7 linked regions of the Homo sapiens genome follow. The protein of the gene in region 5 purifies or fractionates together with the protein of the main gene of each other region. This does not show direct contact. Each region holds a gene or a part of one and is shown on either strand. Other genes may lie near its edges.

Region 1 (3,500 bases), on a different chromosome or scaffold from region 5:
GCCTCAAAAATTGACATCAAATGCAGTTGTTTTTCAACATATTTATGTGAAGTGAGTTTTTTTTGCCAATGACTAAGATTAAAAAGAAAGTAAATTTTGGGGATTTAATTGTATTTTAGATCATAGAAAAGTTGATAAATTTGTGATGAGAGAAAATTGTATACATATTGTAAAATAGGACATTGTGATTTTTTTCTGCTTTCTAAGTATTTAAATATATCCCTTAAACAATATATTTAATTTGAAGTTGCCTCTCATCCTCCTTTAGGAAAGACTTTTATTCTGAGCTTTTCTCTTTCCTTGATTTTAGTCTTTCATGAAATGATATTAAAAATAGACTTAATAACATTTTTTTAAAAACCTGATACAGGCTCCCCAGTTTTATTATTTTATTTCACTCATCCATGAAATCCAAAGGTTTGCTCCTTGACCTGGAAGACAGGTGTAGACTGAATCAAAGAATGATAAGGTTTAAACTTCCTTCTGGTGGGGTGCAGTGGCTCATGTCTGTAATACTAGCACTTCAGGAGCCCAAGGTCAGAGGATTGCTTGAGCCCAGGAGTTTGAGACCAGCCTGGGCAACATGGTGAATCCCCATCTCTACAAAAAAATTAAAAAATCAGCTGGGCATGCTGGTGCACGCTTATGCTCCCAGCTACTTGGAAGGCTGAGGTGAGAGGCTCGCTTGAGTCCTGGAGGTCGAGTTGTGATGCTGCCACTGCAGTCTAGCCTGGGTGACAGAGCAAGACCTTGTCTCAAAAAAAAAAAAAAAAAATGTAGATTAAAAGGAACCCTTGCAGACTGTTGGTGAGAATGTAAATTGATGCAGCCGCTATGAAAAACCCCACTGCACTGCAGCCTGGGCAACAGAGTGAGACCCTGCCTCAAAACAAAAAAATAAATAGGCTGGGCGCGGTGGTTTACACCTGTAATCCCTGCACTTTGGGAGGCCGAGGCGGGTGGATCACCTGAGGTCAGGAGTTCGAGACCAGCCTGGCCAACATGGTGAAACCCCCATCTCTACTAAAAATACAAAAAATTAGCTGGGCATGGTAGTGCGTGCCTGTAATCCCAGCTACTCAGGAGGCTGAGGCAGGAGAATCGCTTGAACCTGGGAGGTGGAGGTTACAGTGAGCTGAGATCACGCCACTGCACTCCAGCCTGGGGAACAAGAGCAAAACTCTGTCTCAAAAAATAAAAAATAAATAAATAAAATTGCTTCTGTCACTGGCCCTAGCAGCTTTGGCAAATCTCACCACTTAGGGCCTCGAACTCCTCACCTGTGAATGAGGGACCTGACCATGGTCATCCCTGAAGTCCCAGCATTTAACTCGTAACATGACAAAAAGCAAACCAGGGCTGGGCACAGAGGCTCACACCTGTAATCCCAGCACTTTCAGAGGCCGAGGTGGGTGGATAGCTTGAGATCAGGAGTTCGAGACCAGCTTGGCCAATATGATGAAACCCCGTCTCTACTAAAAATAGGAAAACAAATTAGCTGGGCCATGGTGGCGCATGCCTGTAGTCCCAGCTACTTGGAAGGTTGAGACAGGAGAATCGCTTGAACCTGGGAAGTGGAGGTTGCAGTGAGCTGAGATTGCACCATTGCACTCCAGCCTGGGCATCTCAGTGAGACTCCATCTTAAAAAAAAAAAAAAGAAAAGGAAAAAAAAAAAAAAAGGCAGCATGGTAAGGCCGGGTTTTTATAGATTGGGTCTTTGGAGTGTGCTGTTGGCCTTGGCCACATAGCTGTCTCCTGCCATGCCCTGGCTTTGTGGGGCGCCTAAACCTGTTTTCAGATGATGATTTTGAGTGAGATACAAGTGTAGCTACTTGGAAAAGATTCAGTAGCATCCCTGAGCTATAGTGATAGAAACCCCGTCCTTGTCCCTTCTGTGGAGCAGCCTGTTGGAGCTTCTCTGGGTTGGCCTAGGCCCAGAGATGAGGTCAGCAGCTCAAGGGTCTAGTGTTTTTAGCTGTCTTCCCAGCCCTGCTCCAGAGCCCCCATGTAACCTGCTGCCCTGCAGTGCCCAGCACAGAGCAGTGTCTGTTGAATGCGTGAGTCAAGCAAAACATCAAACAGAATCCTTGACATGGGAAAAACATGCTCCCAGCCACCACCAGCTGAACATTGACATCCAGCTGCTTTCCCACTGGGCAGTGGCTTGTGAAGATGGGGACAGAGTATCATAAATCATCTCCTTTGTGGACAGCAGGGATGATCCTGACCTTCTTGTCACAGACTAAACAGACTAAGTAGCCAGAAGAAAAAAAAAGAAAGAAAGAAAAAAGGGGCTTAAAGGCACTCAGCTGTCAAAATTATAAGGAGGGTTTGTTAAAACTATTTTTTAAAAAAGAAAAGTGGTTAAGTTATGCAGTAGGATATAATATTCTATAATAACTTATTACCAAACTTTTAGCCTTAATCCAGTTGCTATTTTCCTCTTGTCTATTGGATAGACGTATGGAATGTTCTTTTTTTCCCTAAATTTAGTCATGTGCATTTTTTTTCCTATTTATATTGTGGGTTTTTTTTTTTTTTGAGATGGAGTCTTGCTCTGTAGCCCAGACTGGAGTGCAGTGGTGCAATCTCTGCTCACTGCAACCTCCGCCTCCCGGGTTCAAGCGATTCTCCTGCCTTCCAAGTATCTGGGATTACAGGCATGCACCACTATGTCTGGGTAATTTTCATATTTTTAGTAGAGACGGGGTTTCACCATGTTGGCCAGTCTGGTCTTGAACTCCTGACCTCAAGTGATCCACCCACCTCAGCCTCCCAAAGTGCTGGGATTACAGGCGTGAGCCACCGTGCCCTGCCTATATTGTGGATTCTATGTAGATGTTCCAGTGGCTTTTAGGAAGGTCTTTATGATTTCACACATCTGTCTACAGTCATGTCTGCAGAGCAGACTCTCCCCACTCCCTCTGCAGACAGCTGTAAAACATTGTCTTTCATCTCACAGGTATTAGCTTCCTACATGAGTAAAATCAGGTTTAAGTGAATAAAAATTGTGCATCTCTTCCCATGTACCAGGGAAGTATTTTTGGTGCCTCCAAAGACCGAGCACGGTTCACGCCTCTGCTGGCCTTCACACCGCTGCAGCCACACAGTGCAGAAGCCTGCTCCCTGCTGCCCACAAGCATGAGGCAGGTGGGAAGGGGGATGCTCGTGCCACCTTGTAGGCGGGCAGGCAGTCTCATGGGCAGAGGTGTACACAAGGTGGGTGATGAGGAAGACAGCTCTAGGGTATGAATGATCAGCTGCTGAAAAACATCCAGTGCTCAGTGTGGGTACTTAGAGTTATTCTCATAAAAAATGTGAGGCAGAGTTAGTCAGGTGTGGTGATGCATGCCTGTGGTCCCAGCTACTCAGGAGGCTGAGGCAGGAGGATTGCTTGAGCCCAGTGGTTTGTGGCTTCAGTGAGCCATGATTGTGCCACTGCACTCCAGCCTGGCTGACAAAGCGAGACCATGTCTCCAAGAAAAAAAAAAAAAATTTC
Region 2 (3,500 bases), on a different chromosome or scaffold from region 5:
TGTATTTGTTTTTAGAGGCAGGGTTTCACCATGTTGCCCTAGCTGGTTTCGAACTCCTGAGCTTGAGCAGTCTGCCCACCTTGGCCTGCCAGGGTGCTGTGATTACAGGCGTGAGCCACTGCACCCAGTCTGGCCCAAGAATTCTAACCTCTGAGCGTCTAGCTGAAGATCTTCCTGTGTGTAGTGGGCTAACAAGGCTGCTCAGATTTTGGAACAGAATCATGGACTTCACTGGGTGTCTGTCCAATAACTTTGAAGAGATAGAAAATATAATATTTTGCAAGTGCCAAAAGATAGAGGGATGCAGTTTGGGATGATGAAAAGAGCTCTGGAGATGGATGGTGATGGTTGTACAGAACTGTGAATGTGCTGAATACATTTTAAAATGGTGGGCTGGGGGCAGTGGTGCACGCCTGTAACCCCAGTGCTTTGGTAGGCCAAGATGGGAGGATCCCTTCAGCCTAAGAGTTCGAGAACAGTCTAGGCAATAGGGCAAAACTCTGTCTCTACAAAAAAATATAAAAATTAGCTGGGCATGGGCCAGGCGTGGTGGCTCACGCCTGTAATCCCAGCACTTTGAGAGGCCAAGACAGGCGGATCACGAGGTCAGGAGATCGAGACCATCCTGGCTAACACGGTGAAACCCCGTCTCCACCAAAAATACAAAAAAATTAGCCGGGCACAGTGGCGGGCGCCTGTAGTCCCAGCTACTCAGGAGGTTGAGGCAGGAGAATGGCGTGAACCGCGGGGGGCAGAGCTGGCAGAGCCGAGATTGTGCCACTGCACTCCAGCCTGGGCGACAGAGTGACACTCCATCTCAACAAAACAAAAAAATTAGCCAGGTATAGAGGTGTGCAGCTGTAGTCCCAGCTACTTGGGAGGCTGAGGCAGGAGGATCACTTGAGCCCGGGAGGTCAAGGCTGTAATGAGCCATAATCACACTACTGTGCTTCCAGCCTTAGCTGGAGACCCTGTCTTGGGGGAAAAAAAAAAGGATAAGATGGGAAATTTTATGTTATATGTATTATTTGGCCACAATAAAAAAATGTTTTAAGAGAAAAAAAAAGATGGAGGGAAGGAAATTTGGCAAAGAAATAACAGAATTTATTTTGTAGAGTCTTGTGCACTTGAACCTCAGAAGCTTCTTTTTTTTTTTCTTGAGATGGAGTCTCGCTCTGTCGCTCAGGCTGGAGTGCAGTGGCACGATCTCTGCTCACTGCAAGCTCCACCTCCCAGGTTCACGTCATTCTCCTGCCTCAGCCTCCCTAGTAACTAGGACTACAGGCACCCGCCACCATGCCCAGCTAATTTTTTAATATTTTTAGTGGAGACGGGGTTTCACCGTGTTAGCCAGGATGGTCTTGATCTCCTGACCTCATGATCCGCCCACCTCGGCCTCCCAAAGTGCTGGGATTACAGGCGTGAGCCACCGCACCTGGCGAACCTCAGAAGCTTCTAACCTGCTTTTTTTCCCTTTGAATTTCAGGTCACAAGAGGACCAGATTAAAAATGCTATTGATAAACTTTTTGTGTTGTTTGGAGCAGAAATACTAAAGAAGATTCCGGGCCGAGTATCCACAGAAGTAGACGCAAGGTAAGGATGCTTGCTCCTGCACTGGATGGGCTGGTCAGGTGTCCACAGTTGCACACGTGGATGCCAACATGAGGTCAAGGGGCTGCTCCACCCATGGTCTTCATCCCAAGGGCCCAAGAGGAGGTTTATTTTGAGCTCTCCCACAGTTGGTAGTGATGACCAAGAGCTCCTTGTTTAGCAACTGATCTCTAGTGTTTTTTATTTTTATTTTTATTTATTTTTGAGATGGAGTCTCGCACTGTCACCCAGGCTGGAGTACAGTGGCGCAATCTCAGCTCACTGCAACCTCTGTCTCCCGGCTTGAAGCGTTTCTCTGCCTCAGCCTCCCAAGTAGCTGAGATTACAGGCACCTGCCACCATGCCCAGCTAATTTGTTGTATTTTTAATAGAGATGGGGTTTGACCATTTTGGCCAGGCTGGTCTTGAACTCCTGACGTCATGATCCACCTGCCTCGGCCTCCCAAAGTGCTGGGATCACAGGCATGAGCCACTGTGCCCGGCTGCTAGTGTTTTTTGTTTTGATTTGTTTTGTTTGTTTTTTGAGACAGAGTCTCGCTCTGTTGCCAGTGTAGAGTGCAGTGGTGTGATCTCAGCTCACTGCAACCTTCACCTCCCGGGTTCAAGCGATTCTCCTGCCTCAGCCTCCCAAGTAGCTGGGACTACAGACACCCGCCACCATACCCAGCTAATTTTTTTGTATTTTTAGTAGCGACAGGGTTTCACCATGTTGGCCAGGATGGTCTCGATCCCTTGACCTTGTGATCTTCCCGCCTCAGCCTCCCAAAGTGTTGGGATTACAGGCGTGAGCCACGGCACCTGGCCCAGTGTTTTTTAATACAAATTATAGCCTATGGATCCCACTGAGGACCTCTGTTTGTGAGACTGGGTGTGAGTTGCTGTCAGAGCCATTCTGCAAACCTCCAGTGAGGGGAAGGTTGAGGGCAGTGGTTGGTGCTCACGGTGGTGCTGCTCAAAACTGACAGGCAGACACCCGGCCTCCAGCTTGCTCTGCGTGGTGGGCAACCTGCGTGATCTGAGGGGATGGGTTCTTCTTGCTCCTACAGGCTCTCCTTTGATAAAGATGCGATGGTGGCCAGAGCCAGGCGGCTCATCGAGCTCTACAAGGAAGCTGGGATCAGCAAGGACCGAATTCTTATAAAGCTGTCATCAACCTGGGAAGGAATTCAGGCTGGAAAGTAAGTGGTCCCCCACAAGGAAGGAGCTCTCAGAGATTTTTCCTCTGTTGGAGCAGGGTCTACATGGCATCAGGCAAGTTTGACTCTCTCAGCCCTGGGGAATGCCAGACTGGGGAGCACAGCCCACAGCTTGGACTTGACCAGCTCATGTCAGCCTAGATCTGCCCTCTGCTCCAGAGCCAGCTCCCTCACTTGCTGGTGATCAGAAATGAGGGATTTCCCAGGAAGTACCATCCACCCACTCAGCAGAGAAGAAAAGCCACTAGTTAGCACCTGCAGATTCAGATTCTGTCCTTCCTCTGTCCTGATCAACACAAGCCTATGTTTACATGATTTTTAAAAAGTAAACTATTGTTATATAAAATATATGCTGGCTGGGCAAGATGGCTCATGCCTGTAATCCCAGCAATTTGGGAGGCTGAGATGGGAGGATCACTTGAGCCCAGGAGTTCCAGACCAGCCTGGGCAACAAAGTGAAACCTTGTCTCTACAAAAATATAAAGAAATTTTAGGCTGGGCACGGTGGCTCCCAGCACTTTGGGAGGCCGAGGCGTGGGGATCACGAGGTCAGGAGATCGAGACCATCCTGGCTAACACGGTGAAACCCCGACTCCACTAAAAAATATAAAAAATTAGCCGGGCATGGTGGCACACACCTGTAGTCCCATTTAGGAGGCTGAGGCAGGAGAATTGCTTGAACCCAGGAGGCG
Region 3 (3,500 bases), on a different chromosome or scaffold from region 5:
GGCATGGTGGCAGGTGCCTGTAATCCCAGCTACTTGGGAGGCTGAAGCACAAGAATCACTTGAACCCAGGAGGCAGAGGTTGTAGTGAGCCAAGATTGTGCCACTGCACTCCAGCCTGGGTGACAGAGTGAGCCTCTGTCTCAAAAAAAACAAAACAAACAAAAAAAAACCAAATTGAGTAACTTCAGGTATAACTTGTCTTATTGTGCTTTGCTTTATTGAGCTTTGCTTCATTGTGCTTTGCAGATATTACGTTTTTTACAAATTGAAGGTTTATGGCACCCTGAGTCAAGCAAGATGGCGCCATTTTTCCCAGCAGCATGTGCTCACTTCATGTCTCTGTCACACTGTGGTATTTTTCGCAATATTTCAAAACTTTTCATTATTATTGTATCTGTTATGATGATCTGTGATTAGTGATCTCTGATGTTACTCTTGTAATTGTTTTGGGGGCACCACAAACCACACCCATATAAGACAGCACACTTAACTGATTAATATCATATGTGTTCTGACTGCTCCAGTGATTGCTGTTCCCCTGTCTTTCCCTCTCCTCAGGCCTTCCTGCTCCCTGAGACAAAATAATGTTGAAATTAGCCCACAGTTGATGACCCTACAATGACCTCTCAGTGTTCAGGTGAAGGGAAGAGTCACATATCTCTCACTTTAAATCAAAAGCTAGAAATGATTCTGCTTAGTGAGGAAAGCATGTCGAAAGCTGAGACAGGCCAAAAGCTGAGATAGGCTGAAAGCTAGACTTCTTCCACCAAACAGCCAAACAGCATATACAGAAGAAAAGTTCTTGAAGGAAATTTAATAGTGCTATTCCAGTGAACACACAAATGATAGAGAAAAACAGCTTTATTGCCAATAGGGAGAAAGTTTGAGTGGTCCAGATAATCAAACCAGCCACAGCATTCCCTTAAGCCAAAACCTAATCCAGATCAAGGCCCTAACTCACTTCAGTTCTATCAAGGCAGAGAGAGGTGACAAATCTACAGAAGAAAGTTTGAAGGTAGCAGAGGTTGGTTCGTGAGGTTTAAGGAAAGAGGCCATCTTTGTAACATAAAAGTAAAACATGAAGCAGCAAATGCTTATGCAGAAGCTGCATGCAGCCAGTTATCTAGAAGATCTAGCTGATCTATCTAGAAGATCTAGCTGATCTATCTAGAAGATCTAGCTGATCTATCTAGATCTTCCTTCATCACCTTCATCTGATGATCTATCTAGAAAATCTGATCTACCTTCAACAATGATCTATCTAGAATTGATCTTCTAGATAGATCATTGATGAAGGTGGCTACACTAAACAGATTTTTAATGCAGACAAAACCTTCTATTGAAAGATGTCATCTATGATTTTCATAGCTACAGAGAAAAAGTCAACGTCTGGTTTCAAATCTTCAAAGGACAGGCTGACTCTGTTAAGAGTCTAATCCAGCTGTTGACATTAGGTTGAAACCCATGCTCATCTTCCATTCCAAAATTTGAAGAACCCTTAAGAATTATACTGAAGCTACTCTACAGATGCTCTATAAATGGAACAATAAAGCCTGGATAATGGCACATCCATCTGTTCACAGTATGGTTTACTAAATATTTTAAGCCCACTGTTGAGACCCACTGCCCAGGAAAAAAAGATTCCTTTCTAAATATTACTGCTCATTGACAATGCACTAGTCCCCCCAGAACTCTGATAGAGATATACAGGGAGATCATGGTTGTTTTCATGCCTGCTAACACAACATCCATTCTGCAGTCCATAAATTTTGACTTTCAAGTCTTATTATTTAATAAACACATTTCATAAGGCCATAGAAAGTGATTCCTCTGATGGATCTGAGCAAAGCAAAGTGACCTGGAAAAGATTTACCTTTCTAGATGCAATTAAGAACATTCAGCCAGGTCTGGTGGCTCATACCACACCTGTAATCCCAGCACTTTGGGAGGCCGAGACGGGCGGATCATCTGAGGTCAGGAGTTCAAGACCAGCCTGGCCAAAATGGCAAAACCCCAACTCTACTAAAAAATACAAAAAAATTAGCTGGTCATGGCGGCAGGCACCTGTAATCCCAGCTACTCAGGAGGCTGAAGCAGGAGAATTGCTTGAACCTGGGAGGTGGAGGTTGCAGTGAGCCGAGATCGCATCACTGCACTCCAGCCTGGGCGATAAGAACGAAAACTCCGTCCAAAAAAAAAAAAAAAAAAAAAACACGAACATTCATGATTCATGGGAGGAGGTCAAAATAGCAACATTAACAGGAGTTTGGAGGAAGTGGATTCTAACCCTCATGGACGACATTCACAGGTTCAAGACATCAGTGGAGGGAGGAACTACATATGTGTTGAAAATAGCAAGAGAACTAGAATTAGAACTGGAGCCTGAAAATGTAATCAAATTGTTCTACCTTCATAATAAAATTTGAATGGATGAGGAGTTGCTTCTTATGATGAGCAAAGAAAATGGTTTCTTGAGATAGAATGTATACCTAGTGAAGATGCTAAGAACATTGTTGAAATGACAACAAGGAATTTAGAATATTACATCGACTTAGTTGTTAAAACAGCAGGAGGGTTTCAGAAGATGGATTCTAATTTTGAAAAAGGTTCTACTGTGGGTAAAAACACTATCAAACAGGGGTGCATGTTCTCAGGACCTCTTGAGATTAGCCTCAGGCAAAGAATATTTACTTTAAAATTTTTAAATGCTATCAAACACTATTGCATGTTACAGAGAAATCTTTCATGAAAGGAAGAGTCCATCAATGTAGAAAAATTCATTGTTATCTTACTTCAAGAAATTGCCACAGCCACCCCAACCAGCAATCACCATTCTGATCGGTCAGTAGCCAGCTACATCAAGGCAAGACCCTCCATCGGCAAAAAGATTGACTCGCTGAAGGCTCAGATAACCATTAGCATTTTTTAGCAATGATTTTTTTTTGAGACGGAGTTTTGCTTTTGTCACCCAGGCTGGAGTGCAGTGGCACGATCTTGGCTCACTACAACCTCTGCCTCCCTGGTTCAAGCAATTCTCCTGCCTCAGCCTCCCGAGTAGCTGGGATTACAGGTGCCTGCCACCACGCCCAGCTAATTTTTTTTGTATTTTTTAGTAGAGACGGGGTTTCTTCATGTTGGTCAGACTGGTCTCGAACTCCCAACCTCAGGTGATCCATCCGCCTCAGCCTCCCAAAGTGCTGGGATTACAGGCATGAGCCACCACACCCAGCCTAGCAATGAAGTATTTTTAAATTAAGGTACATGCAATATTTTCAGACATAATGCTATTATTGCACACTTAAAACACTACAGTATACTACTGTAAATATAACTTTTACATGCACTGGGAAACGAAAAATTTCACGTGACTCATTTTATTCCAATATTCATTTTATCACTGTGGTCTGGAACCTAACTCGCAATGGTCTGGAACCATACCCTTCAGGGTATGCCTATAATTATTTTAGAACCCTCCATCTCAATAATCCCATTCCTGGAAA
Region 4 (4,210 bases), on a different chromosome or scaffold from region 5:
TTTGCTACAGGAGGGCTGAGAGAAGACAGAACATCTACGATTTTTTTTCTTTTCAATTCTCTTCCTACAACTAATTCATCCGACCTTGGAAGTTTGGTCTTACTAAAAACAAAAGTTAGCTGTTCTTTTACAACCTCCTCTTCAAGATTACTTGTCAGGGTTTGCTGTGCCCTTCGCAGCTTGAAAGACTTTCTCTTCATCCAACGATTTGAGGCAATTAGGAGCCACTGCCTTCTCTCTGCCATTGGGTTCCAGAAAGCACCATACATTGTCCGCAGATACTTTACTCATGCTTACACTTTCTTGTTCTGAATCTTCAAAAATTAGTGGCGTGTGGTGGCACACGCCTGTAGTCCTAGCTACTCGGGAGGCTGAGGCAGGAGAATCACTTGAACCTGGGAGGCGGAGGTTGCAGTGAGCCGAGATTTCGCCACTGCACTACAGCCTGGGCAGAATAGAGAGACCCCATGTCAAAAAAAGAAAAAAAAAGTATCTGATTGTGTTTAGCATATCTGCAATATCCCCTTGACTTTGGCCTTTAGCCTCTTTATGAGTACCCTGATGGAGGAAGGCCCAGGAAGCGGTAGCCTTCCTGGTTTGTGACGCACGGTGTGCATTGCGTATTAGATTAACATCAGAATGGCCCTGAAGGCTGGAACATCTTATCTGTGTTTGAGAGTTATGGAAACTCTGATCCTCCATGAGAATAATTTTTCCAAGGTCTCAGATCTCTAAAGCAGTAGATCTTGGATCTGAACATTGCTATTTCTGACCTTAAAGCCCATGCATTTCCCACAACATATGAACCATGATAAGGTGTATTTTAAAGTTCATCTTTTCTGTTTTTTGTGAAAGTCTTTTAGAGATCTCAGCTCATCACAAAGTTTCCGGTTCAGTCTCGTGGGTTTCATGTACTCAGCCAGCATTTACTTGCCAGTCAAGGTCTAGGATGGCTACCTGTCCTCTGCAGGAGCCCCAAGCCTATTCATTAATTTCATTTACAATTTTATAGTCATAATTATTTCTTTGTATAATAGCATTCTGAGATTTTCCAAAATTTCCCACTGTTTTTGTTTTACAGTGGGCAGAATTCACTTTGCTCTAACTTGACTCCAAGATGACACAATTTCCCAGTTTTTTTTTTAACGGCTAGGGGATGGGGGTATGCGGAACAGAACACAGTGGTCTAGCTAACCGATTTCCGCTAGACGTCCAGCTATCTTTCAAAATATTTTGTTTCTGCACGGCAACTTCAGCCGCTAAAAAAGCATCCAGCTTACAACGGAACCTGGAGGGTTGGTAAAGGCCCCCTGCGCTGGCCCCGCCCCATGGGACCGGGCGGCGTGGGCGTGAGAGGCGGGGCGGGGCCGCGCTCTGCTTGCCAATGTCTTTATAGGTCACCCGGAAGGCACGCGGAACCTCGGCGCGGTGCTTCCAGCAGGGTCTCTCCGCCACTCCAGCCCCGCGCCCCTCGCCGCGGCCCTCGGGCGTCTGCGCCGCAGCTGCCGCCCCCGCCTCTTTGGAGTCTCTCGCGGCCTCAAAGCGCGGCCTGCGTCGCTTCCGGCAGTTCCCGACCGCGGGCGATGGCTGCCGCTGGGGGCGCCCGGCTGCTGCGCGCCGCTTCTGCTGTCCTCGGCGGCCCGGCCGGCCGGTGGCTGCACCACGCTGGGTCCCGCGCTGGATCCAGCGGCCTGCTGAGGAACCGGGGGCCGGGCGGGAGCGCGGAGGCGAGCCGGTCGCTGAGCGTGTCGGCGCGGGCCCGGAGCAGGTAGGGCGCCGTGCGGGCGCGATCGCCGGCGCGGGCCGGGGTCCCCGGTGGGTGGCGCCTGGCTCTCTGGGCCGAGTCTCTGGTTCCAGTGCCTTCTGCGCGCCGGGCCCACACCCCGGAGGCCTGCCTCTCGCCCCCCTCTTCTGGGGTGCTCTCGCGGCTCCGTCTCGCTGCTCGGTGGCGTCGCTGCCTCCCTTCCGTCGCACCGCAGAGTTCCTTTCCGCATCACCCACTCCCGGCGGGAATCGGGGACCCTGGACGCCCAGCTCCCTTTCCCAGCGCTTCCCGTGCCCTGAGGAAAGCCGGGACTTTGCTGCTGCTTGTTCTCCGTGTGATTTGTCTGGGATCTGACCTTTGCTCTGCCCGAAACTGGCAGTGACCTTCGCGACAGGCTTCCCTCCTGCTGTCCTGGCCTGACACACCTGCCAGCTGTTTTTTTCAGGGCCTTGCCCTGCTTTGAGAGGACACCCAGGTCCCAGGTCTTTGTCAGGGGGTGTCCAGGTAGAATACACCCAGCCCATACCCTCTGCTGCCCTGTAGGCCCTTTGCTAGTTGCTCAAGTGTTGAAAGCCCCTGCGTTGAAGTAATCTGCCGGGACTTGAAACTTGGCTTTGGCACTGATTGTCTGACGTGCCTAACTTGGTCAGTCCTTAGGAACCCAGTTTCTCCATTTGCAAGTTGGATATAATAACAGTGTAGACCTCCTATGGTTAATTGAAGAATCAATGAGTTAATACAGCGATACAGGTAGTCTTGTGCCTAGCACGTAATGAGGGCTCAGTAGATGCCACTTGGTAGCAGCAGCAGCAGCAGCAGCAGCAGCAGCAGCAGCTTCTTAGGTTCACAATGTTAAGAGAGTTTTGTATTAAATATTGAAAGAAATGTGACAATTTATCCCAAATGTGTTGAAGTTTTAGGTTCTTGGGCATATTTGTTTTTCAAAGACACTCCTTAGATATACTAGAGATACAATTTACACATAATTTTTACCAACATGGTGGCGATTTATATAATGCAGATCTCTCGACAGCTCTTTGACCGCATGATGTAGGGTAGCAGGAATCGAGAACTAGAGGGAGAGTGTGTTGGATTTGTACGCTGCTTTGTCTAGTTTCTTTTTGAGGTCTCTGAGAGCAGGGTCTAAGACTTTCAGTCATCTTTTCCCCACTAATCCCGTTATCTAGTGGGTGCTCCATACATTTTTGTTGTGTGAACTTTGGGGGAAATCAGGGAGAAGGCAAGCCAGATTTATTTGTTCCTGTTTCCTCTGCACTTCCCCCCCTGTCTTTGACCAGTGTGGGTACCTTGCTTTCTGTTATACAATGGATGAGTTTTGGACAACTGAATCAATTGGGACAGATATTGAACATGCTTGTGTAACTGGTATAAGGGAACATGAATGTTTTTGTAGTAATTGGGAGTTATCTTTCTCAGATTTGTTTTTTGGATTTGGATATGTCAGGTTGTTTTAAAGGGGAGCACGTCTATTTCCTCATAATCCTGCTGCCCTCTTTATTGGCACAATTTCTATTCATGGTCTTATCATTCCTCTTACAGACTTTGGAGCTACAACTGGATTTTCCAGTTCTTACTGTGTTAATGAGACTTGTGCTGTAACTACCGTAACTACTAATCACATGTGGCTATTGAAGTTTAACATAATTAAAGGTAAATAAAATTAAAGATTCAATCTCGTAGTTACACTAGCCACATTTCGAGTTCTCAGTAGCCACATGTGGCTAGTGGCTACTGTATTGGACATTGCAAGTATGTGTAGAACATCTTTGTTATGGCACAAAGTTCTTATAGACAGACAGAGCAGTTCTAGAAACTGTAGTTCTGTCTTTGAAGTTTAACAACTCGATAAGCTATCAGTAATTGAGAGTCAGAAAAACTCCTTTTACTCTAAAATACCGTGACACAAGGGGGTTTGCAGTGATTCAGGTAGCAAAGATCTTTCACGTGTATTGTTTCGTATGACTCTTAAGACAATTCTATGAGGTAGGGAGGGTAGATAAATGGGAATAAAAATTTCATATTAAGTAGCTGGCAAAACTAGGACTAGAACTCAAGAAGTTTTTGCGGATTTTAAAAAAATTTTAAATTTCTATTTATTTTTAAAATTTCAGTAGTTTTGGGGGCACAGGTGGTGTTTGGTTAATGGGTTAGTTCTTTAGTGGTGATTTTGGAGGTGTTGGTGTACTCTTCACCTGAGTGCAGTGGTGCCATCATGGCTCACTGCAGCCTACACCTCCCAGGTTCAAGCGATTCTCGTGCCTCAGCCACCCGAATATCTGGGATTACAGGCGCGTGCCACCACACTCGGCTAAGTTTTGTAGTTTTAGTAGAGATGAGATTTCACTATGTTGACCAGCCTGGTCTGGAACCCCTGGCCTCAAGTAATCTGCCTGCTTCAGCCTCCCAAAGTATTGGGATTACAGG
Region 5 (3,500 bases):
ATTAAGTAGCAAACTATTGAAATAAATCAAGTGCTTTCCTGTAGAATTAGAAAAAGGACAATAATATAAATCTACAAAAGTCAGTGGCAGGACTAAGTGAAATTAAAGTCAGAAATTAATGAGTTGGTTAATATATTTTAAACTTTAATGGTAAGTAGATCTAAAAGATAGAAAAGCTCCTGACAAGGCTAATCAAGAGAAAAAAAAATCACGTGGTATTATGAATAAAAAAAGGTACTGTTATGTAAAGTATTTTAGGAAAATACAAATTCATTACAGCATTAAAAATAAACTAAATAATTAAAAAGGTTTTAGTTGCCTTCATTGAAAAGACCAACAACTACAGAAGAAACTGGAAATATATTTTTATTTTTTTTTTGTTTTTTGTGTTATTGTTGTTGAGACAGAGTCTCCCTCTGTCGCCAAGGCTGGAGTGCACTGATGTGACCTCAGCTCGCTACAATCTCTACCTCCCAGGTTCAAGCGGTTCTCCTGCCTCAGCCTCTTGACTAGCTGGGATTATAGGCGCCTGCCACCAGGCCTGGCTAATTTTTGTATTTTTAGTAGAGAGGGGGTTTCACCATGTTGGCCAGGCTGGTCTCAAACTGCTGACCTCATGTGATCCACCTGCCTTGGCCTCCCAAAGTGCTGGGATTACAGATATGAGTCACCGTGCCTAGCCTGGTTTTTACTTTTCTAAGTGGTTGGAAAAAAGTCAAATGAAGAGCCAGGCCATGCTTATCATCCCATCTACTCAGGAGGCTAAGGCAGGAGGATTACTCGAGCTCAGGAGTTCGAAGCTATAGTGAAATGTAATTGCAACTGTGAATTACCACTGCACTGGGGAACATCACGAGAACTCATCTCCAAAAAAAATAAATCAGGCGGGGCGCGGTGGCTTATGCCTGTAATCCCAGCACTTTGGGAGGCTGAGGCAGGCGGATCACCTGAGGTCAGGAGTTCAAGACCAGCCTGGCCAACATGGCGAAACCCTGTCTCTACTAAAAATACAAAAATTAGCCAGGCGTGGTGGCGTGCGCCTGTAGTCCCAGCTACTCAGGAGCCTGAGGCAGGAGAATCACTTGAACCCGGGAGGCGGAGGTTGCTGTGGGCCGAGATCATGCCATTGCACTCCAGCCTGGGCGACAAGAACGAAACTCAGTCTCAAAAAAAAAAAAAAATCAAATGAATAATACTCCTTGACCTTGTGAAGATTCTATGAAGTTCAGATTACAGTGTCCAGAAATTGTTTTGTTTGTTTGTTTTTTTGAGACAGCTTCTCACCCTGTCATCCAAGCTGGAGTGCAGTGGCGCCATCTCAGCTCACTGCAACCTCCACCTCCCGGGTTCAAGTGCTTCTCCTGCCTCAGCCTCCCAAGTAGCTGGGATTACAGGCACCTGCCACCACGCCCAGCTAATTTTTGTATTTTTAGTAGAGACAGGGTTTCACAACATTGGCCAGGCTGGTCTCAAACTCCCAACCTCAAGTGATCCGCCCCCCTCGGCCTCCCAAAGTGCTGGGATTACAGGCATGAACCACCGCACCCGGCCCAGAAAAGTTTTATTGGAACATAGCAACACCCGCTTATGTATATATTGTCTGCAGCTGTTCTGGGGCCAGAACTGCAGAGCTGAGTGGTTGCAATAGAGACTGGATGGTCTGCAGAGCTTAATCTATTGACTCTGGTCTTTTGCTGAAAAAGGGTGCCAACCGCAGTATTAAACAGTTACAGACCAGGCACAGTGGCTCATGCCTGCACTTTGGGAGGCTGAGGCAGGAGGATTGCTTGAGTCTAGGAGTTTGAGACTAGTCTTGGCAACATAGCAAGACCCTGTCTCTACAAAAAATAAAAAATTAGCTGGGCACAGTGCCATGTGCCTGTGGTCCCAGATACTTGGCAGACTGAGGCAAGAGGATCACTTGAGCCTCAGAGATTGAGGCTGCAGTGAGCCTTGATGCCGTCACTGTACTCCAGCCTGGATGACAGCGCAAGACCTTGTCTCAAAAAAAATGCAAATAGTTACAGTGGGCGGGGCATGGTGGCTCAACGTGGGAGTTCAAGACCAGCCTGGCTAATATGGTGAAACCCCGTCTCTACTAAAAATATAAAAAATTAGGCCAGGCGCGGTGGCTAACGCCTGTAATCCCAGCACTTTGGGAGACCTAGGCGGGTGGATCACCTGAGTTCAGGAGTTCTAGACCAGCCTGACCAACATGATGAAACCGTCTCTACCAAAAACAAAAAAATTAGCCAGGTGTGGTGGGAGGCGCCTGTAATCCCAGCTACTTGGGGGGCCGAGGCAGGAGAATTGCTTGAAACCGGGAGGCGGAAGTTGCAGTGAGCCAAGATCGCACCATCACGCCATCACACTCCAGCCTGGGGGATAAGATCGAGAGTTCATCTCAAAAAAAAAAAAAAAAAAAAAAAAAACTTAGCCGAGCGTGGTGGCACTTGCCTGTAATCCCAGCTACTCAGGAGGCTGAGGCAGAAGAATCGCTTGAAACCGGGAGGCGGAGGTTGCCGTGAGCCAAGATCGTACCACTGCACTCCAGCCTGGGAGACAGAGTGAGACTCCATCTCAAAATAAATAAATAAATAAATAAAAATAGTTACAGTGGATAGAAAGGAAGGGACTCTTGTCCCTGCTGTTTGGCACTAGGACAGCTGAGCTGGGCATTGTCACATTTTGAGGATACAAGAGTCTTATTTATCCTTGGTTGGGGAGCCAGGAGAGTGCCGAGGGGCGGTGCCTGGGCCGCAGGCAGGGCCTTACTCTTCTGCCCTCTTCTTCAGCGCATTTTGGAGGACCAGGAGGAAAACCCGCTGCCCGCCGCCCTGGTCCAGCCCCACACCGGGAAACTGTGCTGGTTCTTGGACGAGGCGGCCGCCCGCCTCCTGACCGTGCCCTTCGAGAAGCATTCCACTTTGTAGCTGGCCAGAGGGACGCCGCAGCTGGGACCAGGCACGCGGCCCATGGGGCTGGGCCCCTGCTGGCCGCCACTCTCCGGGCTCTCCTTTCAAAAAGCCACGTCGTGCTGCTGCTGGAAGCCAACAGCCTCCGGCCAGCAGCCCTACCCGGGGCTCAACACACAGGCTGTGGCTCTGGACATCCGGATATTAAAAGGAGCGTTGCTGGAAGTCTGCACTGTCTCGCGGTGTTTGATGGCAGCAGGCCTGGGGGCGCCCTGGCCTGGGTTCTGATCCATAGCCCTCATCTGTGGGGAGGAAGGCGGGGCCTGCTTCCCTGGGGCATAGCCACCATGGATGAATTTCCTAAGACAACAGGCTGGGCACAGTGGCTCACGCCTGTCATCCCAGCACTTCGGGAGGATGAGGTGGGCAAATCACTTGAGGTCAGGAGTTCGAGACTAGCCTGGCCAACATAGTGAAATCTCTTCTCTACTAAAAATACAAAAATTAGCTGGGCGCGGTGGCTCACACCTGTAATCCCAGCACTTTGGGAGGCCGAGGCTGGTGGATCACGAGGTCGGGAGTTCG
Region 6 (3,500 bases), on a different chromosome or scaffold from region 5:
AATGGTGGCAACACCCTGCTCTTCTTTTTCCTCTTTCCTTAATTGCCCAGTACAAAACACACACATTTCCTTCTTGAATAGGACATGTTTCCTACTTTCAGTGTTAAGCTTGCAACATCTCTTAAAACACCACATAATGCCCTAACTAAATTATGTTTTACTTAATTCAACTCTGGTTGGTTTTCTTACTTTCTTTCTTTCTTTTTTTTTTTGGAGATGGAGTCTCACTCTGTCACCCAGGCTAGAGTGTAGTGGTGCAATCTCGGCTTACTGCAACTTCTGCCTCCCAGGTTCAAGTGATTCTTCTGTCTCAGCCTCCTGACGAGCTGGGATTACAGGTGTGCACCACCAAGACCAGCTAATTTTTGTATTTTGCAGTGACATGATCATGGTTCACTGCAGCCTCAACCTCCTGGGCTCCAGCGACCCTCCTGCCTTAGCCTCCTGAGTAGCTGGGACCACAGGCATGAGCAACCATGCCAGGCTAATTTTTTTTTTTAACTTTTGGTAGAGACGGGGTCTCACTTTGTTGACCAGGCTGGTCTTGAACTCCTGGCCTCAAGCAATCCTCCTGCCTCAGCCTCCCAAAGTGTTGGGATTACAGGCATGAGCCACCTCACGCAGCCTAAACACTTTTAAAAAGGTAGAGATAAAGCAAATCATGCAAGAGCACACTGGGACAAATATTTCAATATAATCCAATACCTGTGCAAAATTGCTGATTCCCACTGTTCCAATGCCATTTTCTGTTGTTACCCATTCGTGTTTCTCTGTGAATTTACGCACTAAAACAGAAGACCAACATTTCAGAAAAGCAGTAGCATTACTTCTTAAGAAGCACTTTTCATTACCATTGCTTTCAAAAGACTTTCCCAGAATTTCTGTTTGACCTGTTGACACTACCTTTAAATAGTGCATGGCTCAGGAAAGAATGAAGATCATGTATAGAGATGACGCATTTAAACAGCAGTACCATTTAAGCAAAGATGGCTTCATCTGAACACCTTGTGCATCTTTTGGAGATTGGATTATCTGCTTTAACATTACTTAGCCTAAATCACAAAAGAAAATTTTGGAGCATATTTCAAATGTATACTTAACTATTACTGGTCTGTCTTGCAGAAAAAAAAATCTGTGCCTCTGAAGACAAATTTGGGGTGATGAGGTTTAGGGAGGCAGCATAAAGATGGCTCATATAAGAAATGATTTAACCTAAAAAAAAAAATAACAGTAATAATCAGGTGCCTCTTTAGGCAGAGTTGACCTAAGAGAGCTTCAGTGCAGCTTGGGTTACAAAGTAAAATTTTACAGGAATGAAACTGACCTCCTGGAACAACTATAATTTGACTAAGTTCTTAAAATTCTACTTTAATCAAATTCAAGCCTAACCTTGAAGATAGCACTACCATCGCTTAAAGAAGAAAATTAAGATCACAACTCAACAGTCTTCTCAGAGCTAAGCCATGGGTTGGTGGAGAATCAAGCTCTGCTCACCACTCACTGGACAGGTTCAGCCCTCGACTTACTGAGCACTTCTCTAAAGATACGGTCAAACGATTCAGGGAATCCTGAAAGAAGGACCGGCCAATGTTCAAGAGTAAAAAGAGTTATTTAGGATATAAAGTTAAAAGTACTTGCCTTAGAGAATAATATTTTTTAAAAAGCATATGCTATATTAAATACAGTTCATATTCTGACACCAAGTATTTTTCTAAAAACAATGCAACGTAAGTTCATAGAAAAATGGTTAACTCAAATACTGTTTTAAAGAGGCCTCACTGGCTCATTTTACCCCTTACCCAAAGGATAGTAGTACTTAAAACAGCATTCAATTGCTTTGGTTACAGCTCTGATACGCAGCACAACGTAAGTAGAGTGTATAATTATTATTTTTATTTTTTATTTTTGTAGAGATGGGGGGGTCTATGTTGTCCAGACTGGTCTCAAATTCCTGAGCTCATGATCCTCCCACCTCAACCTCTCACAGTGCTGGGATAATAGTGTGTGAGCCACCGTGCCTAGCCAAGTATATAATTCAATATTGCTTTCTTTTCCCCTTAATTATGAAACTTTCTAAAGTTCATACCCCTTCAGTGGAAGAAGTCAAAAAATGTGTCACTAAGAAATTTATTTTGCTTCATTCCACTTCAAAGAACTGAATGTTTCAGGTCACTCTGACGTTCAGGTAAGAAAGTTTAAGATGTGTACACTGTGTTTTGACTGAAAGACTCTCCCTACCATCTTTACTAACTACTTCCGGTCTAGATTCAGAAGTCCGTTCCTGCCCAAAGGCTTGTCTAACCAAGTCTAGGTTCTTAGGCCAGCCAACATGCTCTTACGGCACCCTGTACCACTATCCCCCAGCACACACACGGTGCTGAACATACTAGAGATCATCTGTCAGTCTCCCCAGGAAGTAGGCTGTGTACCCACCAAGAAACAGCAAGGTTTATCTTATTTTCATTTGTTTTCCCAATTTTAAATACAGTGCTTGCCACATAGCAAGCACTCAAAAGCTGAAGGAATGAAATAATTTTTTTTTTCCTTAAATTATCATGTCGCAGGCCAGGCACAGTGACTCATGCGTGTAATCCCAGCACTTTGGGAGGCCGAGGCGGGTGGATCACCTGAGGTCCGGGGTTTGAGACCAGCCTGGCCAGCATAGTGAAACCACATCTCTACTAAAAAAATACAAAAATTAGCCAGGTGTGGTGGCACACTCCTGTAATGCCAGCGACTTGGGAAGCTGAGGCATGAGAATTGCTTGAACCCAGGAGGCAGAGGTTGCAGTGAGCTGAGATCACGCCACTGCACTCCAGCCTAAGCAACAGAGCAAGACTCAGTCTCAAAAAAAACAAACAAAAAAAATCCCTGGGCGTGGTGGCTCATGCCTGTAATCTCAACACTTTGGGAGAAAAATATATATATTTTTCCCCTTAAATTATCATGTTGCAGGCCGGGCACAGTGGCTCATGCCTGCAATCCCAGCACTTTGGGAGGCCAAGGCAGGCGGATCACCTGACGTAAGGAGGTCAAGACCAGCCTGGCCAGCATGGTGAAACCAAGTCCCTACTAAAAATACAAAAATTAGCCAGGTGTAGTGGTACACGCCTATAATCCTAGCTACTTGGGAGGCTGAGGCAGGAGAATCACTTGAACCTGGGAGGCGGAGATTCCAGTGAGCCGAGATTGCACCATTGCCTGGGCGACTAGCGAAACTTCATCTCCAAAAAAAAAAAAAAAAAGTTGCAGAATGACGTGATTTTTTAAAGTTTATTAAGAGGATTCTGAGGAAAATAGATAGTATATAGTTATTTGTCTTTAACACTTAATTCTCTCACTCTGCTACAAATCGCCGGTTATATGCCAATTATGAGCAGTTTGAAGCTAAAACACCTTTTCAAAGTAAGCACTGGACAACTATAAACACCACCTGAGACTACCTTCTTTGACCTTGCCATCTTGCCTACCTGTGAAGATAATTTTAGGAGTAAGGCTGC
Region 7 (3,500 bases), on a different chromosome or scaffold from region 5:
GAGAGAAACAGCGCGCACTCAGATTTTTAGAAGAAGAAATCTGGAGAGGACGTGAGAGAGAGAAACAGCGCGCACTCAGATTTTTAGAAGAAATCTGGAGAGGATGTGAGAGAGAGAAACAGCGCGCACTCAGATTTTTAGAAGAAGAAATCTGGAGAGGATGTGAGAGAGAGAAACAGTGCGCACTCAGATTTTTAGAAGGAGAAATCTGGAGAGGAGATATGGGGTCAGTAAAAGGTTTTTAAAGGATGGGAGCTTTCAGCGCCTGTTTGCACGCTGGCGAGAATAACTCACTGGAAAGAAGAGACTGATGCTGCAGAATGGAGAAGAGATGATCAAAGGAGCTGCAGAGCTGAGGGGATCAGATGGAGGCATCTCCCTGGGGAGAGCTGAGGGGAACGGATGGAGGCATCTCCATGGGGAGAGCTGAGGGGGTCAGATGGAGGCATCTCCACGGGGAGAGCTGAGGGGATGGGATGGAGGCATCTCCATGGGGAGAGCTGAGGGGAACGGATGGAGGCATCTCCATGGCAAGAGCTGAGGGGATGGGATGGAGGCATCTCCATGCGGAGAGCTGAGGGGAACGGATGGAGGCATCTCCATGGGGAGAGCTGAGGGGGTCGGATGGAGGCATCTCCCTGGCGAGAGCTGAGGGGAACGGATAGAGGCATCTCCATGGGGAGAGCTGAGGGGGTCAGATGGAGGCATCTCCATGCAGAGAGCTGAGGGGGTCGGATGGAGGCATCTCCATGGGGAGAGCTGAGGGGGTCGGATGGAGGCATCTCCATGGGGAGAGCTGAGGGGGTCGGATAGAGGCATCTCCATGTGGAGAGCAGAATAAGCACAGATCCACCAGCAGTGGTTCCAGGGCAGCCTGAGGTTGTGGTAAGGCACAAATGCTAAGTCTAGACAAGCAGTCTACACAGGTGGCAGTGAAGACATCGGTCCTTGGCTGAGGTCAACCCAACAGCGAAAGGACGTGGTTCTGACATTAAGAACCTGGACCCTGTTGCTTAGTCTCCTCCCACACACACTTAATGCCATCCCTCTCAGGCCCATGGTGACATAAATGTAGAAATGGGACTCACATCATCCAACAATTTGCTTCCCTCTGGATCCATCTTAGAAAGTTCTCGAAATGCTTCATCCCCGACAAAGCAAATTTCATGTCCGTCCTACACCAATAAAGAGAAAAGACACCTGCCAAAGACATCCTTGAAGAAACCCCTGGTCCAGCCTGCCCCCTGCCTGAGAAATACTTACAGGGTCGGCCAGAATGACCACCTGTACTGTTGCTTTCCCTGGGGTGTCCAGGCTCACCAGGGGAGTCAGAATCTTCTGGTTCTCCCTTTTCATCAAGTCTTCTAAGTCTGGCAACTTGAGGAAAACAGAGGCAACGTGAGCCAGGGGTCACACACTACTCAGGACACGGCCCTCGTCAGTCCTAGAGGAGTATCAGATACCATAAAGAACCAAGGCGCCATTTGTTTGAATTTATTATCTCAGCTGCTCTTGAAACAACTGCTGAACTTGATACTAAAGCCACAATCAAAAAGGACCTCAAGAAGGGAAGGACAAAGTTCTTAGCTGGGTTGAACTAGCTAGTCAGAAAGCTCAAACGATCTGGTATCAAGCGTTACCTCTTTCTGGGGGCAAGAGAAGGCAATTCTTCCAAAAGCTGCTGCATGGTCCACCCCACCCTTGACGCCCTGTAGCTCCAGCTTACACTGAAATAGGAAAGGGGGTTATTTTTTGGAACAGGTTATACATTCATTACACGTATGTGGTAGAAAAATTCAAATATTATATACTAAAGGAATAAAGTAAAAACTGAGTCTCTATCCTACTCTCACCCCAGAGACAACTAGTCCACACTTTCCTGTGTATCCTTCTAGAAGCACTGCACGCATCTATGTTTTTTTTTTTACACAAATGGTGGTATAATTTACAAATTATTCTGTTCCTTGTTTTTCTCCACTTAATGTTACCATGTCAATACATAAAGATTTGCCTCAATCTTTTTGCTAGCGACATAGTAATCCATTCCATGAATGAGCCGTAAATTACTGAAATATGTCTCTAATCTATAGGACACTGAAATTCTTACACATTGTGATTACAGACAATGCTGCAGCAGATAACCTTGCACACACTTCTTTGTGCCGATGTATGTTGAGCACATCTGTAAAATAATTCCTAGGAGTAGAATTGCAGGGTCAAAGTGCAAGGACTAAATCGTGCTCAAACGCTGGGTTATTAGAAAAAGAAGATGAAAAAGATCTTGCATTAAATCCATTCAATCTCTTGGATTAAGCAATTCCACTTCTGAAGAGATATATCCCCAAATATAAACAAGGTAATATCTGGGTGGTAAGGTTATCACTTATTTTCTTCTGTTTATCTATATAAATATTGAATCACTGTGAAGAAACTATGGGAACAACCTTCATGTTAACTTCATTTATAAAGGTTATAAGCCATTTATAAGCTTCGTTTACAAGCCAAATTCAAAGTAACAGGTTATTCTTCTCCAAGATTGCTCACCTGGTTATCAGCATAGCCCAGCAAAGCCCTTTGCTTTTCTTCATCTTTTTCATAAATTTTCATTCCCAGTAGATTACACCAGTAGTTCAAGGACTTTTGAAGATCAGACACTGCTAGAGTTACTTTTAATACAGGATCTGTTGGGTAATAAAGCAGGAATAGACAGATCAATTTAATAGAATAAAATAGAAAGACCAAAACATGCGCATGTATACTTACAAATTCAGTTTATGATAAGAAAGGGATTTTAAGCCAGTATGAAGCTGGGTGCAGCGGCCCATGCCTGTAATGCCAGCACTTTGGGAGACTGAGGTAGGAGGATTGCGTGAGCCTAGGAATTCAAGACCAATGCAGGTAAAACACTGAGACCTTGCCTGTATGAAAACTTTAAAAAAATTGGCTGGGTGTGGTGGCTGATGCCTGTAATCCCAGCACTTTGGGAGGCCAAGGCAAGTGGATTACCTGAGGTCAGGAGTTTGAGACCAGCCTGGCCAACATGGCAAAACCCTGTCTCTACTAAAAATAAAAAATAAAAAAAATTAGCTGGGCGTGGTGGCGCACGCCTGTAATCCCAGCTACTCGGGAGGCTGAGACAGGAGAATTGCTTGAACCTGGGAGGCGGAGGTTGCAGTGAGCCGAGATGGCGCCGTTGCACTCTAGCCTGGGAGACAAGAGCAAAACTCTGTCTCAAAAAAAAAAAAAAAAAAAAAAAAGATTAGACAGGCGTGGTGGCTCATGTGTGTATTCCCAGCCACTTCAGAGATGGAAGCAGGAGGATCGCTTGAGCCCGGGAGGTTGAGGCTGCAGTGAGCCAAGACTGCACTACTGCACTCCAGCCTGGGTGACAGTGAGACCCTATCTCGAAAAAAAAAAAAAAAAAAAAAACAAAGACAGTATGAAAAGCCTCATTATTCAATGGACGGCGCTAAGAAGACTGGCTAATCATTTGGTAAGAA

Evidence for each region.
Region 1: the proteins of PGLS (region 5) and IMPA2 fractionate together in Homo sapiens (co-fractionation; one large-scale study listed by BioGRID). This does not show direct contact.
Region 2: the proteins of PGLS (region 5) and TALDO1 fractionate together in Homo sapiens (co-fractionation; one large-scale study listed by BioGRID). This does not show direct contact.
Region 3: the proteins of PGLS (region 5) and CLIC4 fractionate together in Homo sapiens (co-fractionation; one large-scale study listed by BioGRID). This does not show direct contact.
Region 4: the proteins of PGLS (region 5) and FDX1 fractionate together in Homo sapiens (co-fractionation; one large-scale study listed by BioGRID). This does not show direct contact.
Region 6: the proteins of PGLS (region 5) and GCSH fractionate together in Homo sapiens (co-fractionation; one large-scale study listed by BioGRID). This does not show direct contact.
Region 7: the proteins of PGLS (region 5) and GLOD4 fractionate together in Homo sapiens (co-fractionation; one large-scale study listed by BioGRID). This does not show direct contact.

Annotation. Positions count from the first base shown.
Region 1 is NC_000018.10:12,002,007-12,005,506, forward strand, and holds part of IMPA2 (inositol monophosphatase 2), read left to right. Parts: intron 1-3,500. UniProt on the Homo sapiens protein: Phosphatase that can use myo-inositol monophosphates, myo-inositol 1,4-diphosphate, scyllo-inositol-1,4-diphosphate, glucose-1-phosphate, beta-glycerophosphate and 2'-AMP as substrates in vitro.
Region 2 is NC_000011.10:757,464-760,963, forward strand, and holds part of TALDO1 (transaldolase), read left to right. Parts: intron 1-1,486; coding exon 1,487-1,594; intron 1,595-2,658; coding exon 2,659-2,790; intron 2,791-3,500. UniProt on the Homo sapiens protein: Catalyzes the rate-limiting step of the non-oxidative phase in the pentose phosphate pathway. Catalyzes the reversible conversion of sedheptulose-7-phosphate and D-glyceraldehyde 3-phosphate into erythrose-4-phosphate and beta-D-fructose 6-phosphate.
Region 3 is NC_000001.11:24,814,947-24,818,446, reverse strand, and holds part of CLIC4 (chloride intracellular channel protein 4), read right to left. Parts: intron 1-3,500. UniProt on the Homo sapiens protein: In the soluble state, catalyzes glutaredoxin-like thiol disulfide exchange reactions with reduced glutathione as electron donor. Can insert into membranes and form voltage-dependent multi-ion conductive channels.
Region 4 is NC_000011.10:110,428,538-110,432,747, forward strand, and holds the start of FDX1 (adrenodoxin, mitochondrial precursor), read left to right. Parts: upstream 1-1,410; 5' UTR 1,411-1,583; coding exon 1,584-1,768; intron 1,769-4,210.
Region 5 is NC_000019.10:17,518,149-17,521,648, forward strand, and holds the end of PGLS (6-phosphogluconolactonase), read left to right. Parts: intron 1-2,795; coding exon 2,796-2,933; 3' UTR 2,934-3,140; downstream 3,141-3,500. UniProt on the Homo sapiens protein: Hydrolysis of 6-phosphogluconolactone to 6-phosphogluconate.
Region 6 is NC_000016.10:81,089,896-81,093,395, forward strand, and holds part of GCSH (glycine cleavage system H protein, mitochondrial precursor), read right to left. Parts: exon of another isoform or gene 1,196-3,500; coding exon of another isoform or gene 1,102-1,195; intron 786-1,101; coding exon 706-785; intron 1-705. UniProt on the Homo sapiens protein: The glycine cleavage system catalyzes the degradation of glycine. The H protein (GCSH) shuttles the methylamine group of glycine from the P protein (GLDC) to the T protein (GCST).
Region 7 is NC_000017.11:768,781-772,280, forward strand, and holds part of GLOD4 (glyoxalase domain-containing protein 4), read right to left. Parts: intron 2,682-3,500; coding exon 2,545-2,681; intron 1,728-2,544; coding exon 1,641-1,727; intron 1,378-1,640; coding exon 1,264-1,377; intron 1,176-1,263; coding exon 1,089-1,175; intron 1-1,088.